2 linked regions of the Homo sapiens genome follow. The protein of the gene in region 1 interacts with the protein of each later gene in a pairwise test. Each region holds a gene or a part of one and is shown in the gene's direction. Other genes may lie near its edges.

The links. The genes of interacting proteins can lie anywhere in the genome.
Region 2: the proteins of FAM124A (region 1) and ZZZ3 interact in binary tests that used the Homo sapiens proteins (3 or more experiments, as listed by UniProt).

What each region holds. Positions count from the first base shown.
Region 1 is NC_000013.11:51,281,193-51,284,881, forward strand, and holds the end of FAM124A (protein FAM124A), read left to right. Parts: coding exon 1-64; 3' UTR 65-3,047; downstream 3,048-3,689.
Region 2 is NC_000001.11:77,681,090-77,684,689, reverse strand, and holds the start of ZZZ3 (ZZ-type zinc finger-containing protein 3), read left to right. Parts: upstream 1-2,031; 5' UTR 2,032-2,105; intron 2,106-3,600.

The sequences.
Region 1 (3,689 bases):
CATGCCACCACCCCCAGGGTCGGCTGGCCCCGGGGATAACGACATGGAGGAATTCTACATCTGAATGCCCTCTGCTCTTGTTCTCGAAACACACAAACTCAGAGACACAGACTCAGGCCCCACTGCCCCTCTGGCCACTGAGCACACCACATTCTTCATGATCCATTTCCCAGGAGCCCGTAGCACATTTGCCTACCACCCACTCTTAGCTGGGGGGTGGTATATCTCTAGAGACACAGCAGAAAAATACTGGCATTTTTATGCAAATAAATTCTCAACAAACTTGTCATAAAATATATTTTTTGAATATTCAGCATTTGAGGTATGGTTTAGTGGGTTTATACAATTTAAATGGCTTATATAATTATTTGAAATGAAAAGAAAACCTAGTCAGCCAGAACCAATTTGGCAATTTTTCCATGGTATGAAGGCAAATCAATTAAGGCCAAAACGTTGAATGTGGGAGAGATAGTAAGTGACTTGTATGAGGGATTACTGCATAATAACGTAACGCACACCTTACTGGATTCTCCATATATATTTACATTACCAGAGAACAGTGGCCCTAGGGATGTTTAAGCACTGCTTATAATGGAAAAAGTCAGCTTGAGAAGTAAACGTATATCAGACTACAGGTAATTCCTCATCTTGAAGCCATGCAACACCTGCAAATCTGGATTTATACAAAAGTTGCTAATGTGTTTCATAAAGATTTAGCATGAGTAACAGACTCTTGGTGCATTTAAAATATGTGAGTTCCAGAAAGTAGATTTGCATACACCTTTTCAACAGCACATTTCACTGGAATGGATGAGGGGCTTCTGAAGACCACTCCACTACCTGAATTTATTTGGATCACTGAGGAAGAGCATTTGTTGGGATTACAGAATTATAGGCCATTAGACATCATGGGTAGGTAGTCTTAAGATCCTTCAACTTTCAAAAACCACAGTCTAAGGACTATATTCAAATGACAAGAGCCGCACTGTATACTGCTTTCTGCAGTGACCATGCTGGGTCACGCATCCTATGTTTCTCATTTTTAAATGATTTGGAACATTTTAGCCAGCATTTTGATCACACAGATTAATAATGCTGTTCTCCCCAAAACGGGAAACTTTACCTGAAACGCTCTCCTGAACAAACACCAGTGCACTGCCAGCCTCACATGATTGCATGGGAGCTTTAATTAACGCTGGAGCCCAGCAACCTTGGCTTTTCCTGCCTGTTATCTGCTACTGTCACACCGTGAATGGTATTTGAATCTCACCTCCCTCTCACCTCAGTAAGAGTATGTTTGTTTACAGCCCCAACCTCAGCAATGCCAAAGGCTGGCATCGGGGGCAGTGCCAAGCTGTCCCTGGATACTATTTACCTTTGAGGAAGAACAGCATGGGTTTGCCAAGCTCAATTCCCAGGCTGGTGCTCCTTGAATTAATCATGGCACAGTGTTCATCTCTCTGGAAATGCCCACGCCAGCCCAGACACAGCCTCAGAGTCCTTTCCAACACGACCCTCCAGGCAGCAGTTACCAACCATCAGTCTTCAGCTGAAGCTTCAAGTCTTTGCCATCCTTGTAATGACAGCCTTAGGCCTTGCCCCAAGCATTCTGGACTCTCTAACACTCAGAATTGTAATGTAATATTCTGCTCTAATTTAAATTTTTAAAAATATAGTCTCCTAATTCAGGATAAGGAGTAAGCAAACTTTCTGAAAAGGGCTAGATAATAAGTATTTTAGGCTTTGCCAGTCATATGGTCTCTTGCAGCTACTCAACTCTGCCACTGTAGTATGAAAGCAGCCATGAGTAATATGTTAATGAATGGGAATGGCTGAGTTCCAATAAAGCTTTATTTTTTTTTTATTTGAGACGGGGTCTTGCTCTGTTGCCCAGGCTGGAGTGCAATGGCGCAATCTCAGCTCACTGCAAGCTCTGCCTCCTGGGTTCAAGCCATTCTCCTGCCTCAGCCTCCCAAGTAGCTGCGACTACAGGTGCGCACCACAATGCCTGGCTAATTTTTTGTATTTTTAGTAGAGACAGAGTTTCACCATGTTGGCCAGGTTGGTCTCAAACTCCTGACTTCGTGATCCACCCACCTTGGCCTCCCAAAGCACTGGGATTACAGGCATGAGCCACCATTCCCAGCCAATAAAACTTTATTTACAAGAACAGCTGGTGGGCCAGATTTGGCCCAAGGGTCATAGTTTATTATCCCTTGAGCTAGGCTGCTGCCTGAGGTTGATTCAACATCCCAGCTCCAGTCAACAACAAAAATTCTAAGTCTCCCGCCTAATGCTGCTGTGGTGTGTCATGCCAAAAAAGTGGGCTACTCAGGTTAGACCAATGACTTCAGAACCACAGGGCTCAGAACAGGAAGGAGCTTCTTTCTGCAGAGCTGATTCCTGGAAAGCCACCAGCACTCCACCTTCTGCCCAGAAATGTGATTCAGTCAATAGCTGATGAGGAAAAGCAACCTGCAAACATTAGGAAGAAGGAGAAAAATAATTCAGAGGTGATGATACCACCTCCAATGAACAGGGAAGCAAGTTCATCAGTAACAAAAGTCAGTGAGGCAAAAAAAAAAAAAAAAAAAAAAAAAAAAGGCTAATGGCCGAGGGCTGGCTCCTTCTTTCTCCCTAATCAGTGTCCTTATTTCAGTGTGCTCACATGCTCGCCTAGGACTGCTTTAGAGTACAACTCTGGACCCGCCCTCATCACAGTCCAATCTACCAAACTGAGTGACCCTAAAGGACATCATAGACAACATTTGAAAGCAAGAAATGCAAAATGTTCCCATAGCATCAGGTGAGCAGGGAGAGGATGCCCACTGTAGACCACATGGAAATGGCAGTCCCTCCACGGAGAGGGAATCACAGGAACACATTTACCAAAGCCTTCCCTTCCATTCCTGGCCATTCCAGTAGCATCTTCCTCATCCAGAAGGGCTTCCAATACTCTCTGGAGGATCCTGACTCGTTTGGAGTATTATCCTTGTAAAAGATGCTGGCACATTGTAGGTGCTCAATAAATGTGTTCAATTGAAAAATATTGAGGTTGTCTCATAAATTATATCTATGTATTAGGCTCTGTAGTGTAAGAAGTCTAGATTGTAGCCCTGGTTTTTTGTCGCTTAATGGAACCGTGTCTCTTGTTTCCTTGGCCTTACGCTTCCTCCAGCATTGCCAGGGAGGGGATGTGTTGGTAAGTGCTCTGGTTGAGTTACATCCCATCCCTCATTTGCCTCTTTTCCAAGTAAGATCCCCTCAACCCCAAATTACTGCTCACGGTCCCACTTTGGCCTACACTAAACACCACCTAGTGTCTGCTTTAAAGAGCAAATCTTTCTCTGTCTGTCCCCAACTCACCTGGCAAGTCCTACAGAAATCATCTTGGGTCACCTCAACTGGTTAAAAGGAGCATAAGAGGAACTGGTGGAAGCAGTGGGTGAGCCACTGCAGAGACTTTTGTGACATGGGAGGGTTGATGTGTGCTTGAATAAATTGGGTTTTAGTAGTGGCTGCTCCTTGAGCCTCCGGGTCTGAGGGCAGGGGAACAGTCACAGCAGAGTGAACTGGACTGTACCACCCAGTGCGTTCCCAGGTGAGACTACATGTTTACTTTACTTAGAATGAGCTCCCGGCCACAAATAAATCAGGAGAAACGGAGGTATCTTCCTACCTCCCTATTT
Region 2 (3,600 bases), on another chromosome or scaffold:
ACCGCGCCCGGCCTCCCCCACCCCCGTTTTTTTTTGACATACTGCCACCCAGAAACACTAGTATGTTCAATAAATACTTGATGTGTTAAAAACATGTAACCCTTTTTCTTGAAGTAGATGTTACTTTGAGTTGAACTCAAAGCTAAAATACAAAACACCATTTAAAACATTTAATAACTTTTATTAGCAACATAAAAGAAGGCACAACACGTATCCACTTGCCCGAAAAAAAAAATAGTGTTGCAAAGGAAAACAAAAGTAATGAAACAGCACTGGACAATTGTCAAAGAAGAGCCCCAGTTAACGGCTTCTACCACTGGATTTTATATTTTTGGAACATAATCTTTATAGCCACGGAAGGAGGTTTAGCTGTTTTTCCACAGCTCATAAATGATGAAGTTATTTATCTTCATTAATGTGTGTTGGGCTTTATTTTCCTACATGCTCAATATAGTTGGTAGATCTGTTTTGATATTACTGAGCACTGCTTTGTGCCAGACACAATTCTGGGGATACAGCAATGAGCAAAACAGTTTACTAAGTCCCTGCTTTTAAAAATTTTACATTTCTGGTGGTGAGGATACTGACAAATAAGGTCTGGAAGTTGTAACTGTTATGAAGAAATAAAAGCAGGTGAAGAGTTAAAGCAATGGTGCAGGTGTACTTTTTTTGGATACAGTGGTCTGGGCAGCCCTCTGAGAAGGGACCTGAAATATGCATCGAACATCGAGGAGTTAAAAAAAATCTGGAGGAAATGTTCTGCCAGAGAAATCGGCAAGCACAAAGGCCCGAAGTGGTTCGAGCCTGCGTGCTGTGGTACAAGCCAGAGGTGAACGAGGCGAGGCAGAAGCACGATCATAAATACATGTATGGATGTTCTCCTGGCTTGAGACCACAGTGCTAAGGGAGGTGGGGTTTACAAATCTCTCAGGAGGCCACAAAGGGCAGGATGAAGCCGATTTCCAATGGCGGAGCTACGAGGACGCCTTTCCTCTGCTAGGGCCAGGTTGGACGGTTGCAAGGGATGGACTGCAACCCGCCCTCGGAAGACCAAACTTCGCCCAGGGGCAGGGACTGGCCGGGGAGGGCCTCGGCGGCGCCCGACCCGCGGGCGCTGCACGGGCCGCGGTTACCAGCAGGCGGTGTAGTGAGCGCGCCTGCAGCAGCAGCAACAGCAGCAGCAGCGGTCGCCGCCGCCGCCGCCGCCCGCCAGTCCCAACGAGGAGAAAGGAGGGGACCGGAAGGAGCCGCTGGTGCTGCGGGAAGTGGCAGGAGCGGGAGGCGGGGACCCACCTGGAAGCGCCGCGGCGCCGCTATCGAGCTTCCTGCAGCGGTGGCCACCCGAGCAAGTGCCGTGGCGGGGGCGGAGAGCGGCCACGGCGGCGGCGCCTCCCCAAGTGGCCCGTTGCGTCCGACCCCGCGTGAAAGGTGAGCAAGAGCTCGGGACACGTGGTGAGGGCCAGACACGGGGGAGGGAGAATGAAGGGGGAGGGAATGGGGGTGGGAAACGATCGGCTTGGGACCCGGATTTGGAGCCAAGTACCGGGAGGGGGTGGGCTGGAGGCGACGACTGCGACGGCTGCGACGGCTGCGACGGCGAAGCCCCCACGTGGGGCGGGGGTGCGCGCGCACGTGTGCGCGGGCGAAAGGGGGGGCGGGGAGGGCTTTTGGGAGGGCGTCGGGAGCGCGCTCGCTCAGTAGCGGCCCACGTGACGGGCACGCCGAAAATGTTTCCACGTGACAGGGAGGCTGCCTGGGGCAGCGCACTGCGCTCTGTTTATGTAGTATAATCGTGGTAATCGGAGGTTTTTAAGATTTCTGCTTTTCTGTACAAGGGGAAAGGAGGAGACGTATAAAGCGGAAAGACTTCCTACTGTCTCAGTGTTTTAAATGTTCACTACTCCGTTAGTGAAGTGCTTTTTAAGTTCCGAAATACTGATTTTTTTCTGTACCGCCATGTTGGGTCTAGTGGAAGCTCGCGAGATGCGAGTGGGTTTGTATCGCGAGATCTCTCGATTCTCGCGGGACCTCGTTGGCAGAGCAGTTGTCCTGGATGGCGGAGCCTTGGGTTCCGGGGGCCTGGGACCTGCAACTCTTTCTACAAGGCAAGTCGTTAGGGAGGGGCCCGGGGCGAGTGCCTCTTGGTGCCGGGATACGTGCTGCATCAGCTTCCCATAGTCTTGAAGGGAATACAGTAACCCCATTGAGGCAACACTGCCCTCCCCATCCCCCTGCGGGCGCTCCACCACCTGCAAAAGCATATGCACCCCTCAGCCAGGTCCTTCTCCCCACGCAGTGATAGTTCCACCCTGTCCCACTCACTGGAAGTCCGGGAGCCGTGCTCGCGCAGACCTGATGATTCCATTGGATACCGTTCCTCTTACTTTAAGATGTTCTTGTCAGTTTTTCCCTTCTTGCCATTTTCTAAAGTATTCCAGACCGGTTAACTATTGTGTCGCGTTTTCTGCTGCAGTACCTGACTCCAGTCTCCTGAAACAGAACTCCTCCCATCTATTTTCTCTGGGTGTCATTTACTCATCACCCTGACTTCGTATTTTCAGTAACTTTTGGCAGTATTTGGAGGGCCCATTATGTCTCTGACAACACCTGTGGTCAGAATAAAATCCTGCTTTTCATCATTTTGTACGTGCCTATTAACTCAGTTATCGGTAGGGTTTTAATTACTACTGTGTTACTGAGGTTGCCATCTTTGAAGTTTAGGGATGGTTGTTTTAGGTTATATATTTAAGGTAACAGACTGTTTCATGTGATTTTTTTTTTTTTTTTTTTGAGACGGAGTCTCGCTCTTGTCGCCTAGGCTGGAGTGTAGTGGGGCGATCTCGGCTCATTGCAACCTCCGCCTCCCGGGTTCAAGCGATTCTCCTGCCTCAGCCTCTCGAGTATCGAGTAGCTGGGATTACAGTCGCGCTTCACCACGCCCGGCTAATTTTTGTGTTTTTAGTAGAGACGGGGTTTCACCATGTTGGCCAGGCTGGTCTCAAACTCCTGACCTCAAGTGATCCACCTGCCTTGGCCTCTCAAAGTGCTGGGATTTCAGCACTGTACAGGCGTGAGCCACCGCGCCCGGCCTCAGGTCAACTTTTTAGTAAAGAGCAAACTCATAAATTTTGGCATCAGAGTTTGAGCTTTATTTTTCTTAAATGAGTTTGAAATCAATTTAATATTTCTCTCCAATTCCCTAATGTCTCAGAAGTGAATTTACAGTATACCTTTGTTTTTTCGTATTCTTAAGTAGTATTTGGATTTTATTTAGTAGTTGCAGTACTAAATAAGGAGTGGGGAGTTAATTACAAAACGAATCAGGTGACTAGTTAATTTATTCATAGTTTGTTTTTTAAAACTACAAAAGTGTTTTTTTTTCCTATACATAATACAGAGAGGTATATAGTATAGAGTAACACAGTGCTTGTTTCACGGTACCACAAAGTTCCATTCCTCAGTCTTAAATCTCTGTAACCAGCCTTTGTGGTTGCTGTGTATCATTCCAGATATTTCCATATTTTGGTTTAGTTTTTGTTTCTTAAATGAAGGGGAGAAAGTGTTGTTTTAATGGGGTACCAACACAATATTGGCAATCAG